Regions from separate parts of the Homo sapiens genome. Here regions 2, 3 and 4 are each linked to region 1. Evidence: fine-mapped expression QTL. A gene starts in region 1. Each other region holds a variant in brackets. All regions are shown on one strand. Distances are between the middles of the regions.

Region 1 (5,154 bases):
TTCTATGGGATCTTTTTTTCTTTCCTGACATATTGTCGTTTGCATGCAGTCACTCTTCATTAATACAGATATGTTTCAAATCTGAAAAAGACAATAAGCTTGTATAGAGAAAATATGTTTTCACTATATTAATTCCATTCTAACAATTTCAACTGCCAACAACATATATTTTTTATCAGGCTTGTGGGCTCAGAAATTTTTTTATTAATAGCTTATTTTCACAGTATCCAATATGATACTATAGAATGCTGCCTCTATTTGTAAGATAAATAGATGTGGAAAACTACCCAAGATAGTTGTGGAAACACAAGATGCAGAAAACGAGATTTTTTTTTTTTCCCTAGTTTACCATGTTGTAAGTTTTCATGTTATTTAAAAATTTTTTACATGTTACTTTGTTGGGATTGGTAAGCCAAGAAATTTGGTTTGAATTATTTTATATATGATACTCGACTGGCATTTGGAAATATCTTGTTTTATTCAGGAAAGTTAAATGGCATTAATAGAGCAACTCTTAAGTAGTCAGTGTTTCAAAAGATATGCTGGTGCTTTTATTGTAATTCTTGAATCCTGTTCTGTCTGTGAATCAGAAGATAAACAAACGTTAATTATTTTTAAAAATTTTAATGTGATATTATCTAGTGAAAATTTCAATTATAATTCTACAATTGCATTGTAAATCACTTTTATACCCCAAGAGGTACAGGTACGAGTGATGAAATTATGGAGTTTGTAAATGTTTTACATTTGCTATACTTAAAATCCTACTATTTCACAGTGTTGGCTACTTTTCATATTCCAGTCCTTGGCCTCAGTAACTTAGAAACAGGTATGTATGAAGGAAAAATGAAGCAGAAAATAACAACAACAAAAAAAAGAATCAGATATGGGCCAACTTTAGAATGGTCTAATTGCTCAAACTTTAGAGTCTTTAACCTTTAGGCAAGGAGTTGAAATTAAAAATAGCCAAGGTACTTAAGGATGTCAGGATCTTGCAAGAAACCGCTGGAAGCACCAATATTTAAGTAACAGAGGAAAAGGGGAGAGCAAAAGAGACTGAAGATGAACTTTGGAGCTGGGAGGAATAAACCTAAAGAGTGATACTCAGAAAACGAGAGAGACCATTATGAAGGAAGGAGGGGATAGGTATCTTAAACATCAAAGTAAGGCAAAAATAAAGCGCAATGGCAACAAGGTCATTAGTGATTTTAGCAAGAATTACTTCATTTTTATCCACTCCTGCAGTCATAGTAAATGGCATACAGAAGGCCTCAATATTTATTTGCTGAAAGAATAAATCAGTAGGTTTCAGGGGACTGGGCTCACACCTGTAAACTCAGCATTTTGGGAGGCCAAGGTGGGAGGCTTGCTTAAGGCCAGGAGTTTGAGACCAGCTTGGGCAATATAGTGAGACCCCCATCTCTAAAAAAATTATAAAAATCAGCTGGGCGTGGTAGCAAGCGACTGTGATCCCAACTACTCCAGAAGCTTGGGCAGGAGGATCCCTTGAGCCCAGGAGGTTGAGGCTGCAGTGAGCCACGATCCTGCCACTGCACTCCAGCCTGGGTAACAGAGCTAGACCCCAACTCAACAAAACAAAACAATCAGTAGCTTTCTACCTTAGTTGTACACTACAATGACCCGAGGAGCTTTTAAGAATTAGCATGCCCAAGCCATACCCTAGACCAATTAAATCCAAACGTCTGGGCTCAGGATGCAGGCATCAGTGTTTTTATTAAAGCTCTTCAGGTGATTTCAATGTGCAGCTAAGCTTGGAATTACTGGAATAAGTAAATCCAAAGATTCCAAAGCACCTGGTACAATTGTTTGTTTAAATGGGTTCCTACCTTACCTATTAACTCCTTTTAGAATATGGATTGAGTCTTATGTTTGTAAACTCATGAGAGCATGCAGAGTAGAGGGGTCAAAACTTTCGCTGTATGAATGAATATTACTCACTCTTCTAAAATCTTCCACTGGGGGGAATAAAGCCAAGGAAGGAAAAACAATTCCTAATTCACAAGTAATGAATGAATCACCCCTATTCCCATCATGACTAAGATCTTACATACTAGGGAAAATCCTCTGAGACAAAGAGAGCATAATGCAGTGTAGCATAAGACTTGCTTACCTGAGGTGTTATGAGTATGAAATGCATTGAGTTATAAAATACTTAGAACAGCGATAAGCACAGGATAAGTAATAGCACCTTTTTGAAACAGAATGTAGAAAACCACGTAGCTCTGGAACTGGATAAAATTGGTTTCCTGGATACATACCTACTGTACAAAATGAAAAAGTCATCTTCCAGCTTCTTTTTGCGAAGAAGCTTAAGACTGTCTTGCATACTTGTGGTTGCCTGACCCTGTTAATTTATCAGTATTTATCTTAGAAGAAAGAAATCTAGGTCAAAAACGCGAACGTATTAGTAAAGAAGATACAATGGGAACCAACCTGATGCTCTTACAGCGTCAATACTGTTAGTTGAGATGTGGACCATCTATCAGTTTGTAATTAAGAAAAAGTCTGGCACGTGACTGAAACTGAGGAAGAAGTAGAAAAGGCAAAAGGTCAAAGGTCTCATGGGAAGGAAGGAGGGTAGAGACAGTGAGTTTTATTGGTCCTTTTATGGTTCAGACTTCCTTCTTCATCGACTCTCCCTAATTCTCTTCACTGTTCATCCCCAGCAACTTTTCTTCCCAAGCATTTCCTGCGGGCTTTTATTACCCCAGGAGTGCCAATCAAGGCGTGGAACAGATAAAGCTGTGTAGCAACTAACGCGTGACTCTTGTGAGTGTGGAGGGCAAACGAAGCTCCCTGAAACCTCCGCTCTGCTCTCCTGCCTTACGCCGCGCGGCCCCTGTTCTGAGGTTTAATACTTGCTTCACAGATAAGCGCTGCGGCCACGTTCCGGTGCCCACCTTCTCCTTGGCTAGGGCACGACGCCAGCCCAGGGGGCGCGGCCCTGAGCTGCTGCGAGAGACAGCTGAAAGCGCCGGCCCGACGGCCTTGGCTCCCTCGGTGCGCTGGGCGCAGAGCACTCGGACCCTGGGCGCCCACTGCTCGAGTACCTGCGCGGCTCCTAGCCAGGCTTAGCCCAGGCGCGGGCTGAGAGTCAGTTCGCCAGGTGGGCCTGGAGCCATGGGCTGGGTGGGCGGGCGGCGCCGGGATTCTGCGTCACCACCTGGGCGGAGCCGTTCTGCTGCTGACGACATCAACCCGGCACCTGCCAACATGGAAGGTGGCGGCGGCAGCGTCGCTGTAGCTGGCCTCGGAGCTCGAGGCTCTGGAGCGGCTGCAGCTACAGTCCGGGAACTTCTGCAGGACGGTAAGGAGACGGGGTCTGACCAGGTCGTGGGGTTGGGGGTCTGCGCTGCTCCGCACCTGGACAGCGAGGTGGACCCAACCCGTTGCTTTGCAGAAAGTTTTCCAGTCTGGACGTGACCACTCCCCTCCGCCCGGCCCCCTGGCTTGGGTACTGTTCTAGCCAACCTATTTACTCTGGGACTGGCTCCCTCTTTTCTGGAGTCTTGGGGACACTTGGTTTCTGTGTGTTCCTCATTTCAACTCGACCCCCCCCCCCCCCATGCCTCCAGCTTCCCTGAAGTTTCGGGAGCCCAAACCCTGTGGACCGCGTTGGCAGCCACCGGCTGCTGCCGCAGTTCTTGACGAAGGGGTGTAGCGTTCGAGCTCTTCAAAAGTGTAAGCTCTAGAACAGACGGCAGACGCATAATGAAATAGGGCCTTGTTTTAAAGTAGAGCTGGAAACGCTTACTCCTTTAACAAATGGACTGTACAGGTGACCCCTCTTACAGGCTGGTTTTTTTTTTCCTCCTTTATGAGGCAGTTATCTACAGTGACACGTGGGGGAGGGTTTGAGACATTTGTTCAGGTTGGGATTAACCATTTGTACAGAATCTAGCAGTCAGATTTTATTGCTAGTCAGTTTGGAGAGAAGTTGCCCAAAATAAGAAAAGTTAGATATAATATACTTGAAAAGCATATTCAGTTGTGTCAATCCAGTTACCATGTCCCGAATCTCTTATCCTTCAGAATAAAGTTCACATTTATAAGCATAAAAATAAAGCCCTTCTCACCTGTTCTTAATTTTTTCTCTAGTGGCCATCGCATTCTACCTTGTACTAAAATCATTTGTATACTTGTTTTAATCTCTTCTGTATTGCAAACTTTTTTTAATATCCCACAGTGTGAATAGCAGTATCTTGCATACAGTAGGTGCAGAATGTTTTTTAAATTCATCATCGCAGTTAGAAGCACATGCACACATTTGAAGACCGAAGTGGGTAATAAATGAAATAAAGTTCCAAATTATTGTTTATTTTCTCTGACTGTTAAATATTTTATTGTCATCCTGAATTACGTGCCTTTTCATGATAATTTATGTACTTTTGTCAAAAGCAATGATGTTTTCTGAACTATTTCATGTTGGAAACTCTAGGACCGGGTCTCTGTCTAAAACTTGGCTAAACTGAATTTAAACTTTAGATACAAGGCAGAGACCCTGATATATTTGCAGTTGCTCCTGATACACGTGCAATTTTTGCCCTCAAGTAGTTCACCATCTAGTAGAGGAAATAATCTTGTAGACTATAAAGGTAGGTGCTGTAATATAGTGATGTAAGATAGCAGTAGGATTGCATATAAAGTAGAGCATTAATACAGAGGAGAATGATAACTGGGGGTTGGAAACTGGTTAGGAAATGTCAGAAAAGGCTTTCTAGGTGGAGACGTTTTAAACTGTAGACAGGACTTCCCCAGGTGAACAGTGGAACATTGGATATATGTTTCAGTAGGATGTATTTCAGGAATTGTAATCAGTTCTTGGACGGTAAATACTCTTCAGTTCTGCCTTCTGTATTTTCCTCCTTGGTTCTCTGCCATTCTCCACAGTGATTGTTTAAATCTTCTTTACCCTTTTCAAACCTTTCGCTTCAAGCTCAACAAATGACTTTAAGCTTCCCTGGGGAGAAAAAGAGGATCCATCAGATGTGAACTTTCTCCATTTCTTGCCCATCAAACCTATGAATTTAACCTCAACGTATAACCATCTGTTGCACCTTTTTTCCCTTGCCTTTTCAATTGCAACGGAAGTGGAGCCTCTGCTCCTTTCTTTCTTTCTTTCTTTTTTTTTTT
Region 2 (5,154 bases), 170 kb after region 1:
ATATCTATATAGTATACAGTAAGAAATTTTGATATTATGAGCTCTTTTCACTTTTGCAGTTAAAAATTCTGAATTATTTCTGGTACAGCAAGGATACTAGTTCAAATGCATTGTGTTCAGTGAGCTCTATGGAAGTTAAGCATTATCTTAAGCTTCAAAAAGAAGGTCCTCTTAAAGTTGAACACAGTGATTCCTTTTGTAGTTTGCGATAGTAGTTCTGCAGGCAGCAAGCAATTGTTTTGGGATGTTTTCCTTCCCTTATGACCCAACAAACACCATTTGCCTAGCTTTAAAAGGTACAGCTTTTATATATTTAGCTGTTTTTCTGACTTGTCTCATGGATTATACAACAGAGCCCATCATTTGGGCCTGTGTAAACTCCTTTGTATATTTGGTCCCAGTATTGTTTTTACCACTAACTAGAGTTTCAGTAATTTTTCCCCTCTTGTTCAAAACTTGTTCCTTGGCACACAGTAAACAACTTGAAAGAATGAATGTAGTAAGAGCTCGCGTATTTCCTTTATGACCTTCAAATGATAATTTGCTGTTGTTTCACCATATATTTGTCTGTTTGTTCCCATCACTATAGCTTTCATTAGATTTAATGGAGACCTGATGTGGAGTACATTGGTATTCAATTAAATAAACTTTATGACATGTATAAATAATAATTTTAAAAGTTACTCTTCGGCAATTTCTTTTTAGAGATAACATTGTATATCATTATTAATAATAGTTACATAATATGTACCGTCATAGCTTTTATAATTTAAAAGGATATTTTAAAACTAATCATTTAAATTTTTTTTCTCTAAAGCTTAATGTTAGTTGTGTGACATGTCCTTTTTATTTTATCCTTAAATTTGAATGGAAATTAATTTGAACTCTTACATAACACCCAAAATCATGGGTTGGTAAACTACAGCCCGTGGCCTGTTTTTTTATGTTGCCGCAGTGCTAAGAATTATTTTTATATTTTTAAATGGTTGGAAAAAAGCAAAAACAAACAGCATACGTAGTGTGCAAAGCCTAAACTATTTGCTGTATTGCACTTTAAAGAAAAAATATGCTGATCCCTGCTTTAAATAATTGATTTTCTTGGCAGATACTTTCATCTTTTCTTTTCTCCTACTCTTTTTCTCTCTGTCTACCCTTTCCTCTTTTACGATGTGTCAATTACCATACGGCATTTCTGTATGCTTTTGTTTTACACCAAATGTAAAGTATGACTTTTATTCTAGTTTCTATATGCAGTCATGTTATTTTCATATTCTTTGACAAATTCTCTTGTTGTGAACAATCCACAATAACATTGGCTACTTTATTATTTTATTTTATTGCCATCTTGCAGTGTGGACTTACATCTAATTAACTGTCTGCTTTTAGACTTAGGGTATTTTGGTGTTATTACTTCCCATAGTTTTCCAGTTCACTGAATGCATTTCATTTCAGTTATTCATGTGAATAATTTTTCAATAACGGACTAAATTTATTGTATTTCATATAGAATTCTGTTACTGCTCTTTGATTAAAATTTGGTAGTCACTCTAGTCTATGTGTAATTGCTTTCTGCTTCTCAAAAATTTCTCAAAATTGTGTTTGTACTTGTATAAATCTATATGATTTTACTTAATTTAAACACTCTTGTGCTGGAGTGTTATTATAGTAGTAAATACTAGAATTTTATTTTGTAATTCAGAAAAATTACAGGCAGCAACTTTTTGTCTTTATAGATTAATTTGCATTTCCATGGTTTTACATAATTAGAGTTATACAGTGTGCTCTTCCTCTTATCTGGCTTTATACATTCAACATAATTATTTTGAGATTCATGCATGTTATGTGCATTGATAATTTGTTCCTCTTTTATTATGTCATTACTTATGGAAGTATCTTTATACGTTCACCTATTGATGAGCATTTAGGTTATTTCTACTTTAAGACTATTGTAAATAAAGCTGCATTAACACTCAAGTACAAGTCTTAGTTTCAGCTTATATTTTCATTTGTTAGGTTAATACCTAAGGCAAAAAAAAAAGGTTAGATTTTTGCAAAGACTATTATGTTTACTTTTTAAAGAGAATACCAGTTTTCTGAAGTGGTTCTATTAGTTTACATTTCCACATCCGTAGTTGAGGGTTCTGGTTCCTCCAGATTGTTGCCAACATTTGATGTTAGCAGTCTTTTTAATTTTAGCCATTTTAGTGGGTGTGTAGGAGGTTCTCGTACTTTTTATGTGCATTTTCTTAATAACTACTGATGTGACAAACTTTTTAACTGCTTAATAGTGAAGGTTTTTGTTCAATTTTTGAAGGGTTTGTTGTCTTCTCATTACTGAGTTGTAAGAATTTTTATTACATTCTGGATGTAAGTCTTCTATCAAATTTTGCATTGTAAATTGAATTAGTCGGTTTTCACACTGCTATAAAGACGTACCCACGACTGGGTAATTTATAAAGAAA[A/G]GAGGTTTAATTGACTCATATTTCCGCAGAACTGGGGAGGCCTCAGGAAACGTATAATCATGGCAGAAGGGGATGAGGCATGTCTTACATGGTGGCAGGCAAGAGAGAGGAGTGTGTGTGGAGCTAAGGGGAAAGAGCCCATTATAAAACCATCAAGTCTGGTGAAAACTCACTCACTATCATGAGAACAGCAAGTGGGAAAACCACCCCCATGATCCAATCACCTCCCACCAGGTTCCTCCCTCTACACATGGGGAGTATGAGGATTACAATTCAAGATGAGATTTGGGTGGGGTCACTGCCAAACCATATCATAAATATTTTCTTCTGTGTCTTTCCTTTTTTTCTGTTATCATGCACTTTTAATGTATAGTTTGATGAGTTTTAGTAAACTTATTTATTTATTTTAACTTTTTTTTTCAGACAGAGTCTCGCTCTGTCACCCAGGTTGGAATGCAGTGGCACGATCTCGACTCACTGCAACCTCCATCTCCTGGAATCAAGCAATTTTCCTGCCTCAGACTTCCGAGTAGCTGGGGCTACAGGCACATGCCACCACACCTAGCTAATTTTTATATTTTTAGTAGAGACGTGGTTTTACTATGTTGGCAGGGTTGGTCTTGAACTCCTGACCTCAGGTGATCTCCCTGCTTCGGCCTCCCAAAGTGCTGGGATTACAGGTGTGAGCCACCTTGCCCAGCCAAGTTTTAGTAAATTTATACAGATGTGCAACCATCTCATAACCAGTTTTGGAATATTGCCATCATCATACAAAAGTTCCTTCATGCTTGTTTGTAGTCAGTTCCTCCTCCTACCCCCAAACCCAGGCAATTACTAATTTTGATAGATTATAATTTCTGTCTTCTTAGTTTTTTTCTGAAAATTTTATATAAATACAGTCATATGACAGGTAATCTTGTGTATCTAGCTTCTTCACTTAGCACAATCTTTTATTTAGAATGATCCATTTTGTTGTATGCAGTGATCCCCAGCCTTTTTGACACCAGGGACTGGTTTCATGGAAGACAGTTTTTCCACACATGTGGGGGCAGAGGTGGTGGTTTTGGGATGAACTGTTCGCCTCAGATCATCAGCATTAGATTCTCATAAGGAGCACACAACCTATGTCCCTCGCGTGTGCAGTTAGCAATAGGGTTCGCACTCCTATGAGAATCGAACGCTGCTGCTGATCTGACAGGAGGCAGAGCTCAGGTTATAATGCTCACTGCCCTGCCGCTCACCTCCTGCTGTGTGGCCCAGTTCCTAACAGCCACCGACTCTTACTGGTCAGCAGCCCAGGGGCGTTGGGAACTCCTGATTGTATGTATAAATAGTCCATTGTTTTTCATTGATGAATAATATTCAGTTCTATGGATATATACATTTTGCTTGTGTCTTGATAAGTTGGTAGACTGCTTTTGTTTATTATGAATAATGCTGTCTTTTCCTCCCTTGATATTGTCTTTTTGAAAAGCAAAATTTTTTGTTTTGATAAAGTCTAGTTTATCCATGTTTTCTTTTGTATATTATGAAAGAAATTTTTGCCTACCTAAGGTTACAAAGTTTTTGTCTCATGTTTTCTTTTAGAGGTTTTAGAATTTTACATTTTAATTTTTATGTACAGTGCAAAATTATTTTTTTTCCATAGAGAAAGTCAGTTTTTTGAGCACCTTTTGTTGAAAAAGACCTTTTTTTTTCTTTCATTTAATCCTTCATTGTAATTTGTGGATACCTTTGCGTTTTGAGGTTATTTAATTTCCTGTCAGTCTTTCCCATAATGGTTTTAATATCAACGATTTCTGCCTAAATCTTTTTCTTAAATTACTTAGGGATTATGAAAGTGTGATTTTCTATTTTTGTTATTCCTTGTGTTTACTAGCTGCGATTATTTTGTAAAGAACTTTAACTCATCAACTGTGCATATTTGGTTACCCTGAACTGCAGTTTCTTTTGAAAATGATATATAAATACTTAGAAATTTCACTGTCATTACCACTTTATAGAGTAATGAGTTGATACAGTAGTCACCACCAAAGGTAGCAGATGAGATGTGATTTTATTCTTTTGTTTTTCATCTGTTAAAAATTATTGTTATGGGCCCATGTATTTTTTTATATATTGTCTTTCAATCAATGATGGTGCTGGATGAGGCTGTATGAACTGTTAACAGCAAGCTAGATTAATAGTGGCTTACACCAACAGATTTGACTGGGTGTAGGTGGTGCTAACATTGTTTCAACTATTCAACAAGGATTCAGGCCTTTCTTTTTTCCATTCCATCATCCTTAGTGTGCTTTTGCTTGTCCCATCATGGTCACAAGATAGCTGTCATGCCGGTAGCCATTATGTCTGTGTTCAAGGTACAGAGGTGGGGCAGAGCCAGTTGTGAGTCAAAAGGTGTTGTTATAATATCCTTCCCCAAATTGCCTAAGCCAACATGTCCTTATGTCTCACTGGCCAGATTTGAGTCACATGCCCAGCCTAGCTATCAAGAAGACTGTGAAAACAAGTGTCTGGCAAAGAGGAACAGAATTGTCAACATCGGCTCAGGCTACTTATCAGCCATTGCCTGAGAAAATTAGGTTTTTATCAAGAAAAAAGAAGAAAGTAGTTTTGGGCAATAGCTAATACATAATGCTTGCCATAAATATCTTTGGTAAAGCACAGAATGACTTTACATTTTATTATATTT
Region 3 (5,154 bases), 120 kb after region 1:
ATTATGCTATTCTCTCTTACTTAAACCTTTAGAAATGTGTATGGTTTTAAGTAAAAATTTAACAAAGACCTAGGAAGAGTGTGTTTTTGTAACTCCACTAATATTTATTAGCTACATTTCTACAACATTTTTTTTTGAGACAGGGTCTTGCTGTGTTGCCCAGGCTGGAGTGCAGTGGCCTAATCACGGCTCACTGCAGCTTCGAGCTCCTGGGCTCAGGAACTCCTGGGCTCCTGGAAGCTCCTGAGATACTCCTATCTCAGCTTTCCAAGTTGCTGGGACTACCAGTGCCTGTCACCACTGGTATTTTTTGTAGAGACAGGGTTTTGCTATGTTGCCCAGGGTGGTCTCAAACTCCTGGGTTCAAACAGTTCCCCCGCCTTGGCCTCCCAAAGTGCTAGGATTACAGGCATGAGCCACTACGCTTGCCCTACATTTCTGCTTATTAGTTTCAGTTATAAGAAATTATGAGGGTATGTGTGTCACAATCCAAAAAGAAGTACTCTTTAAGACTGATGCTTTTTTAAATTGTATTTTTGGTCATCCAAAAGAGTTGTGTTACTCAACTTCAATTCAATTTTGATGTGTTTCTTATGTGAAAATCGCTATTCTTTTATTACAGGAGAGGCATAGTCCTTGCTCTTTAGAGTTTATGATATAGTATTTGATGATTTGGGATATGTAAAACTAAGAGAAGTATAAACATAACTTTAATATGATCAGTATTCAAAAAGATATTAACAATGTGCTATGAAGTTTCAAAATAAACCATATTGTTTGAAGAATTAGAACAAGTTTCATTAAATAAAGTAGGGGGTGAAAGAACAGGTATAATTCTGAAAAGCAGGGTTGGAGTGGCGAAAACAGTGTAAGAAAACTGCAGGTATCTTTCAGCTTATAAAATCCTGAACCATTTGGCCTGTGCAACTTTTCATGGCTAACTTTTTACTTTTAATTATTGCTCTGAGCGATGATAAGATGGACTTGAATAATTTAAACTCTGTAAAAATAATACTGAATAATTTAGACTCTATTGTAAAAATAAATTATATGATTAATTTGCTGTTCTATCCTGCAACCAGCCAGTTTACTGAGGATAGGAGATTGTGGTAGTATTAGCTAGACTAGAGGATAATATAGAATATAGAGACTTATAGAACTGAGAGGGACATAGAGAGACCAGTTAATTCATCATCCCCGTTTTGAAGATTAAGAAACAACAGAGAGATAAGTGCCCAGTTTTCTACACATATTTACTCTGATGGAACTGTTCCTGTGTAAGTCTATGTCTTTCAACTGTCAGTCCATTAGGATTATTTGAGGTAGGCGTCTAATTCATTTTTGTTAAGGTAACTGAATCTGAAATATTTAATTTGTGCAGAATCTGTAGATTCCTACAAACAAATCAGTCCAGTGCTTTCCCTGCTTTCTGTGTCTCTTACTAGAGATCTCATTTATAGCTCACCTAGAAGACGGTAGAGAATATATGAAATATATAATATCAATTTGGCTGTAGGAGAGACTGTGAGTGGAATGGATAGGAACATAAGTATGCCAGTTGGCATAAGTCCTTCATGGCACAGAAACATGAGGAAAAATTCTAAACTATGTTGATAGAGGAAGAGATTGAGTCCACCATAAATTAAGACTAGGATTTTAACAAAAAAAATATTTCTGGGCTGTCAGCAAAGTCATTTACATTTTTAGTTTTTATTAGCAGCATAATTTAAAGTCTCTCCTCTATCATAATACTTCATTACATTAGAGATATTATTTTGGCCTGAGGTATTTTTTGACAGCTTTATTAAGATATAATTAACATATCATGTAATTCACCCATTATAACTTGTGCAATTCAATGGCTTTTAGTATATCCAGAGAGTTGTGCAATTGTAGCCATAAACTAATTTTAGTAGATTTTTATTATTCCCCGAAACCACTTCATACCTATTAACAGTCACTCTCCTTTCCTCCCCAAACCATGCAGTCCTAGGCAACTAATATTCTAGAACAAATATTCTGTTTCACAGGTTTGACTATTGTGGATATTTCATATAAATGGGATAATATAATATATGATCTTTTATGCCGGGCTCTTTCACTTAGTATATATTTTCAGGGTTCTTTCACATTGTAGCATGTGTCAGTTCTTCATTCTTTGTAATTGCCAGATAATATACCATGTATGGATATACCACCTTTTGTTTTTCTTTTCATCAGCTGACAGACATTTGGGTTCTGCAAATATTTTCTCTTTTTCTGTGAATTGTCTTTTCTGAAGTAATTTTATTTTAGTTTAAAGGTAATACAATTTGAGAGATATAACATCCTATTTTCATGGACCTGCAGCAAGGGAAAACCCTTGATGTTGCATCTTTTAAACATTATTATAGACTCCTCTCAAGCTTGGAAAGAGATTAGGATGTATAAATTAAGGAACTGGAGAGTTATACTGCTAGGTCAGCTATTTTATTACAGTAGATTCCAGACTGTATCTCTAAATTTTGTTCTTTCTTTCTGGTGTTTCTTTTTCCAGCTTTTAAAATCTTGTATTTGTATTCTCTGAAACACATCTATTATAGCGTATTATTGGGTCTGCCATCTACCCAAAGAGTCTGCAACCCTAAATTATCTCTCTTGGTGACAGATTACATGCTACAAGTTTCTCGTATAGACTTTTTTTTTTTTTTTT[TA/A]GGTGAAATTGATTTAAACCTCAGATGAGACTGTATTTCCAGAAGGTAACATGTAGCCAGAGGCATATATGTGAAAGTAGGGAGGGAACATGGTTGACATACTGTTGGGCTGATGTTTACCTTTAGTGCATAAGTATTTAAAAAAAAAAAACAACAAAAAACCTGTGGGTTACTCCTGACACATACAGCCATATCAAGCTTTCTCTTTTGTCAAGGCCAGATGTATTAGTCTGTTCTCACATTACTATTAATATAAAGAACTCCCTGAGAATGGGTAATTGATAAGGAGATTTAATTAGCTCCTGGTTCTGCAGGCTGTACATTCTTCTGCTTCTAGGGAAGCCTCAGGAGACTTATAATCATGGTGGAAGGCAAAGGGGAAGCAAGCATGTCTTACATGGCTGGCAAAAGGAAGAGAGCAAGCCCAAGGGGAAAGTGCTGCACACTTTTAAACAGCCAAATCTCTTGAGAACTCACTGACTATCACAAGAACAGGGGGGGATGTCTGCCAACATGATCCAGCCACCTCCCACCAGGCCCCTCCTCCAACATTGAAGATGACAATTCAATATGAGATTTGGGTGGGGCCACAGAGCCAAACCACATCACCAGATGCTTGGTTCTTGAAATTGTGTAAGATTTCTTTCCTTACCTTTTAGATAACATATTTGCTCAGTTCATGGATCATAGTTTGGGCTAGAAGGAAAAGAGCATTGCTAAACTAATGCATACCAATAGGTTTATTATTTTGAAGAATATTTCTATTTTAAAATGTGACTTATTAAATAAATCCCTGATTGATAGAATTTAAACTCTTTTAGTGAAGTGAATAACTTTGAGCAGTGGAGGAGATTTTTGAGCATTAGTCATTAAAATTTAGCACATATGGTCTAAGTAAATGCCAGAAGAGATACAAGTAATGTGCTGTGAAAATTCAGAAGATGGATAAGTTATTTACAATTTGGAAGGTTAGAAAATATGTTATGTGGAGCTGGCACTTGAACTGAGTTTTGAAAGATAAGATTTTATTGGGCTATTTGGAGATTGGGAAGGTGCATACACTTGGAGTCAGGGGAATAATCTTCTAGTTTGACTAAAATGTAAGCTCTGGATTACAGGTCAAACATTGGATTGAATGCACACCTTTATTTCTGCTCTCTCCTTTATGTTCACTAAAATGACAGTGAAGGGCTAAAAAGGCATAAACGACAAAAACAAAGAATGGAGACAAGTTAAGGACTCAATCCCCTAAGATTGTTCCCACTGCAGATGGCAGTTATAAGTCCCAGGTTATCAGTAGTATTTCTCATCTACCTGCTGTAGATTAAGGGGTTTCCCACAACTCCCTCCTCAGGATTGGTAATTCTTTTTTTTTTTTTTTTTTTTTTGAGACGGAGTCTCACTCTGTTGCCCAGGTTGGAGTGCAGTGGCGCGATCTCGGCTCACTGCAACCTTTGCCCCCCTGGGTTCAAGCCATTCTCCTGCCTCAGCCTCCTGAGTAGCTGGGATTACAGGCTCCCGCCACCATGCCCGGCTAATTTTTTTTGTATTTTTAGTAGAGACGGGGTTTCACTGTGTTAGACAGGATGGTCTCGATCTCCTGACCTCATGATCCACCCACCTCAGCCTCCCAAAGTGCTGGGATTACAGGCATGAGCCACCACGCCCGGCCTGGGATTGATAATTCTTTAGAACAACTCACAGAGCTCAGAAAAGTGCTTAACTTATTATTACTGTTTGTTGTTGTTGTTTTAAAATAAAGGATACAACTCAGGAACAGCCAAATAGAAAAGATATATAGAGCATAGTATGGGGGAAGGGGCACAAAACTTCACTTCCCTCTCCCATGGGTTGACCTCTCAGCACCTTGATGTATTCATCAACTCAGAATTTCTCTGAACCCTGTGGTTAGGGGTTTTTATGGAGGTTCCATTACATAACGATGATTGATTAAATCATTAGCCATTGGTGATTGACTCAGTTTTCAGCCTCTTTTCCCTCCCCAGAAGTTGGTGTGGGGTGGGATTGAAAATTCCAATCCTCTAATCATGCATTGATCTTTCTGGTGACCAGCCTTCATCCTGAAGCTGTCTAGTGGCCACCATCATTCTATTAGCATGCAAAAGACCGTCTTATTAGTCCAGAGATTCCAAGGATTTTAGGGGCTGTGCCAGGAACCTGATACAATATTTGGGACAAAGATGAAATATTTATTTTTCATTATATTACAACATCCCTCTCAGCTTTTTTTTTTTAACCAAGAAAAACAACCAAAACTAAACTATCCTATAGCTGCTGAAAGTTGTAGTTATTTTACTGATTTCTGCTGAGGTGTTGAGAATTAAGACCAGAATAAACTTATGGTAATTAATTCATTCAAACAAATACATACTGAAGTTCTCCTATGTCCTAGATATTACTCTAAGCACTAGCGATACAACAACCAAATTTCTGCTCTCAA
Region 4 (5,154 bases), 130 kb after region 1:
TATAGCATGCGTCAAATTTTCCTTCCTTTTAAAGGCTGAATAATTCGCTGTATGTATATACCACATTTTGCTTATTCATCTGTCCATGGACATTTAAGTTGCTTCAGTGTCTTGGCTACTGTGAATAACCAACCTGTCTTCATCCTTCCCTCTCCCCATCCTTCCCAACTTCTGTCTGGTTATCACCAGTCTATTCTCTACCTCTATGAGATCCACTTAATTAGCTCCCACATATGAGTGAGAACATGTGGTATTTCTCTTTCTGTGCATATTTCACTTAATATCATATCCTCCAAGTTCATCCATGTTGCCACGAATGATGTGATTTCATTCTTTTTTATGGCAGAATAGTATTCCATTGTGTATGTATACCACATTTTCTTTATCCTTCATTCATCAATGTACATTTGAATTGCTTCCACCTCATGGCTATTGTGAATATTGCTGCTATGAATATGGGCTTACAAATACCTATTCAAATCCCTGTTAAATATCTTTTGGTATATATAGAAGTAGAATTGGTGGACCATATGGTAATTCTATGTTTAGTCTTTTGAGAAACAACCATACCATTTTCCACAGAAACTGCATCATTTTACATGTCTGCCAGTGATATATGAGGATTTCAGTTTTTCTTTTTTCTTTTTTTTTCTGGGACAAAGTGTCTGTCGCCCAGGCTGGAGTACAGTGGCACGATCTTGGCTCACTGCAACCCTTGCCTCCTGGGTTCAAGCAATTCTCGTGCCTCAGCCTCCCAAATAGCTAGGATTGCAGGTGCCTGCCACCACACCCAGCTAATTTTTGTATTTTTAGTAGAAACGAGGTTTCACCATGTTGGTCAGGCTGGTCTCAAATTCCTGACCTCAAGTGATCCACCTACCTTGGCCTCCCAAAGTGCTGGGATTACAGGTGTGAGCCACCGCGCCTGGCCAGATTTCAGTTTTTCTATATACTCCTCAACAATTGTTATCTTCTGTTTTTCTTTTTTAATTGTGGAAAAAACAAATACCATGTAATTTCCCATCTTAGTCATTTTTAACTGCACAGTTTAGTACTATGTTTATATTGTTGTAGAACAGATTCCCAGAATTTTTTCCCCTTGTAAAATGGAAATTCTATACCTATTTAACAGCTCTTAATTTTCCTCTCCCCCACCTGCTGGCAACCACCATTCTACTTTCTGTTTCTATGAGTTTGACTACTTTAGATAACCCATAAAAGTAGAATCAGACAGTGTTTGTCTATTTGTGACTGACTTATTTCATTTTGCATAATGTCCTCATAATCTGTGTTGCAATATGTGACAGGATTTTGTTCTTTTTTTTTTTTTTTAAGACGGAGTCTCGCTCTGTCGTCCAGGTTGGAGTGCAGTGGCATGATCTCAGCTCACTGCAATCTCCGCCTCCCAGGTTCAAGCGATTCTCCTCCCTCAGCCTACCAAGTAGCTGGGACTACAGGCATTTGCCACCACATCCAACTAATTTTTTGTATTTTTAGTAGAGACAGGGTTTCACTGTGTTAGCCAGGATGGTCTTGATCTCCTGACCTAGTGATCCGCCCACCTTGGCCTCCCAAAGTGCTGGGATTACAGGCGTGAGCCACCGCGCCCAGCCAATTTTGTTCATTTTTAAGGCTAATATCCTATTGGGTTTATAATGCCACATTTTCTTTTTCTTTTTATCTTTTTTTAAAATTTTATCTCTTAATTTATTTTTTATTTCAATAGGTTTTTGGGAGCAGGTGATGTTTGCTTACACAAATAAGTTCTTCAGTGGTGATTTCTGAGATTTTGGTGCACTCATCGTCCAAGCAGTGTACACACTGTACCCAGTGTATATACCACATTTTCTTTATGCATTTATCTCTGCCAGTGGACTTTTGGGTTGCTTTTTACCTCTTGGCTATTTTGAATAATAGCTGCAGTGAACATGGATATGCAGATATTCCTTTAAGATCTTGTTTTCCATTTTTTTGGGTGTATGCCCCAAAATGGGATTATTGTATCATATGGTGATTCTAATTTTAAGTTTTTTCCAGGAAGGTCTATATGGTTTTCCGTAACAGCTGCACCATTTTGCATTTCTAGACACAATGCACAAAGGTTCCAATTTTTCTACATCCTTGCCAACAGTTGTTATTTTCTGTTTTGTGTATTTTTTTAATAGTGGCCATTCTAACTGGTGTGAGGTGATATCTCATTGTGATTTTGATTTGCATTTGTCCAATGATTA[C/G]TGATGTTGAACATCTTTTCATGTGCTTGTTGGCCACCTGTCTCTCATCTTTAGAGAAATGTCTATTTATATTCTTTGCCCATTTAAAAATCAGGTTATTTGCTTTTTTGTTTCTTAATTGTAGGATTTCTTTATATATTCTAACCCTTTATTAGAAATATTATTTGCAAATATTTTCTCCCATTCTGTAGGTTGCCTTTTCACTCTGTGAATTGTGGTATTTACATGGAAATTTTACGTTTTGATGTAGTTCAGTTTATTTTTAACTTTTTTTGCCTGTGATTTGGTGTCAATATGTGAGAAATTGCCAGATTCAATGCCATGAAATTTTTCCTTTATGCTTCTTCTAAGAGTTTTATAGCTTTAGCTCTTATGTTTAGGTCTTTGATCCATTTTGAGTTAAATTTTGCGTATAGCTAAGGTAATGGTACCATTTTATTGTTTGGCATATGGATATCCAGTTTTCCCACCACCATTTGTTGAAAACACTGTCCTTTTCCTGTTGAATTGTGTTGGCACCATTGTCAAAAATCATTTGACCTTACACGTAAAGGTTTATATCTGGGCTCTCTATTCCACTGATCTGTATGTCTGTCTTTATGCCAGTACCAGACAATTTTTATTATTGTAGCTTTGTAATATGTTTTGAAGCCAGCAGGTGTGAAACTTGCATCTTTTGTTTTGGCTGTTTGGGGTCCCTTGAGATTCCATATGAATTTTAGGATGCGTTTTTCTGTTTCTGCATGCACACACAAAATGCTGTTGGGATTTCAATAGGGATTGCATTAAATCTGTAGATCAATTTGGGTAGTATTGACATCTTAACAATATTAAGCCTTTCAATTCAAAATCATGGGATATCTTCCATTTATTTGTGTTGTCTTTAATTTCTTTCAGCCATACTTTGTAGTGTTCAGAATACATGTCTTTTGCCTCTTTATTTTCTCTAAGTTTATTCTTAAGTGTCTTACTCTTTTTGATGCTAAAATTGTAAATGGGATTATTTTCTTAATTTCCTCTTTGGATTGTTCACTGTTAGTGTACTGAAATGCAACTGATTGTTGTGTGTTGATTTTGTATCCTACAACTTCGCTAAATTCGTTTATTTTTACAGTTTTTTTTTGGTGTGGAATCTATAAGGTTTGCTATATCTAAGATTATGTCATCTGTGAACAGAGATAATTTTACTTCTTCCTTTCCAATTTGGATGCCTTTTATTTCTTTTCTTGCCTAATTGTTCTGGCTAGGACTTCCAGTACTATGATGAATAGAAAAAAATAGAAAATTTTTTGTAGAATTTTTTTTGCGAAAATGGATGCATCCCTGGACTTTTTATAGTACATGGTAGAATATATGTACTATAAATAGAATATGACTTCAGAAATCCCCATTTTTCTTCCTAGTTAGAATTTTTTAAGTAGAAAAGACTTTATTTTCATGTAGAGGCAGCTTTTCTTATAAGGCCAGTTTGATATTAATGGTAATTTTTGGTTAAGTGATATTCTTACACTGAAACGATTGCATTTGAGTTTTTAAGCATTATGGTATTTTCCTGTGGTCTGTACTTATGTCATGTTCTTATTTCAGTATCCTAAGTTCATGTCCTCAGAGGATTAGGTGGTACTATCCTGTTAACTTCCACTCCCTCTCTTTTGTATATCAATTACTCTTGAATTGCCAAAATATTTTGCAGCCTGGCATATTTTATCAGTTTGAATTTTATTTTAACCCAGCAATGTTTTGTCTGACCTCTCTGTGTTTACTTTTTCAACTTTAGTTTACTACAGAGCAGTTATTTTTATAGAACATTATGGTCTTTTCACTTGGTCATTATTGTCATACTCTTTTTGATTATTCTTTTTGTACTTAAGATTTAATGCTTATGCCAAAGCATTCAAACACATGAGATAGGATATGGTCAAAATAAGAATGGCAAAATGATGGTAATTGTTGAAACTCAGTAATGGGTACAAAGGATCATTCTCTCTTCTTTCATGATATTTTTACAATAAAATGTTCATGCACACACACACAAACACACACACACACTTCCTGTTTAAAATAGCAGTTCTTTAGGCTCTGTATTTGCAGTCTGACCTTTATTTAAAAGTCATTGTTGATTGGGCAGGTTCGTACCTTTAATCTTAGCACTTTGGGAGGCTGAGGGCAGGCAGATTGTTTGAACTCAGGAGTTCTAGACCAGCCTAGGCAACAAAGTGAGACATTGTCTCTACAAAAAATAAAAAAATTAGCTAGGTGTGGTGGTGCATGCCTGTGGTCCCAGCTACGTTGGAGGCTGAGGTGAGAGGAAGTTGAGCCTCAGTATCCTGAGGCTTGAGCTTGGGAAGTTGAGACCACAGTGAGCTATGTTTGTGCCATTGCAATCCAGCCTGGGTGACAGAACGAGACCCTGTCTAAAAAAATTAAAAAGAAAATCAATGTGGCAAATAGGATTTTTCTAGTAAATAATAAAATCTAATAGTAAGATGATAGAGTTTGATGATGCCCCAAATAAAAAATAGATTATCTTTCATATATTCTCTATACTTCAGTGATTTTCCCCATCTTTTTATTTTAAAAAGTTTTAAATTAGAGAAAAGTTGAAAGAATAGTAAAATAAACACCCCTTACCCATAACCTAGATTTGCCAGTTGTAAAACCTTTGCCATGTTTGTGTTATCTCCCTCTATAGATATCTTTACTGATTTTTTGTCTGCCTGTTTTATCAATTATTTATAAAAGGATATAAAACTATTTGACATAATTGTAGATTTTCAAATTTCATTCTTTTTTATTTTTGCTACATTTATATCAAACTCTGTTGTTATGTGCAAACACACTTAGGATGTATTGGGTGTATTAGTTCATTAGGGATGCTGTAACAAATTACCACAAATTTGATGGCTTAAAACAATACAGATTT

Which allele goes with the higher level. Alleles are on the strand shown, and positions count from the first base shown. SD is a standard deviation of normalised expression in the study named. Not every link is listed here.
In carriers of allele A in region 2, the expression in left ventricle of the gene that starts at base 3,211 in region 1 tends to be lower than with G alone (large effect, 1.0 SD a copy in GTEx).
As copies of TA replace A in region 3, the expression in lymphoblastoid cells of the gene that starts at base 3,211 in region 1 goes down (small effect, 0.31 SD a copy in TwinsUK).

Evidence for each region. PIP is the estimated chance that this variant, and not a neighbour inherited with it, causes the effect.
Region 2: its variant is fine-mapped to the expression of COG5 in left ventricle (GTEx, PIP 0.92).
Region 3: its variant is fine-mapped to the expression of COG5 in lymphoblastoid cells (TwinsUK, PIP 0.92).
Region 4: its variant is fine-mapped to the expression of COG5 in Th17 cells (Schmiedel 2018, PIP 0.95).

The regions. Positions count from the first base shown.
Region 1 is chr7:107,561,977-107,567,130 of GRCh38, reverse strand. COG5 (component of oligomeric golgi complex 5) reads left to right here and starts at 3,211. Exons shown (of 22, transcript NM_006348.5): 1 at 3,211-3,328. The coding sequence starts at 3,235. DUS4L-BCAP29 (DUS4L-BCAP29 readthrough) reads right to left here and starts at 3,160. Exons shown (of 13, transcript NR_163941.2): 1 at 2,922-3,160; 2 at 2,455-2,543; 3 at 1-81. DUS4L (dihydrouridine synthase 4 like) reads right to left here and starts at 3,160. Exons shown (of 8, transcript NM_181581.3): 1 at 2,922-3,160; 2 at 2,455-2,543; 3 at 1-81. The coding sequence starts at 60. RefSeq lists enhancers at 1,434-2,633, 3,164-3,283 and silencers at 2,984-3,083, 3,122-3,332.
Region 2 is chr7:107,396,930-107,402,083 of GRCh38, reverse strand. All of the region lies in intron 7 of COG5 (component of oligomeric golgi complex 5), which reads left to right. Among named protein-coding and RNA genes, the nearest start is that of GPR22, 71 kb to the left of the region's middle. The variant A/G (reference allele first, on the strand shown) is at 2,463.
Region 3 is chr7:107,440,183-107,445,336 of GRCh38, reverse strand. All of the region lies in intron 6 of COG5 (component of oligomeric golgi complex 5), which reads left to right. Among named protein-coding and RNA genes, the nearest start is that of GPR22, 27 kb to the left of the region's middle. The variant TA/A (reference allele first, on the strand shown) is at 2,693.
Region 4 is chr7:107,431,148-107,436,301 of GRCh38, reverse strand. The region is part of intron 6 of COG5 (component of oligomeric golgi complex 5); the gene reads left to right. Among named protein-coding and RNA genes, the nearest start is that of GPR22, 36 kb to the left of the region's middle. The variant C/G (reference allele first, on the strand shown) is at 2,232.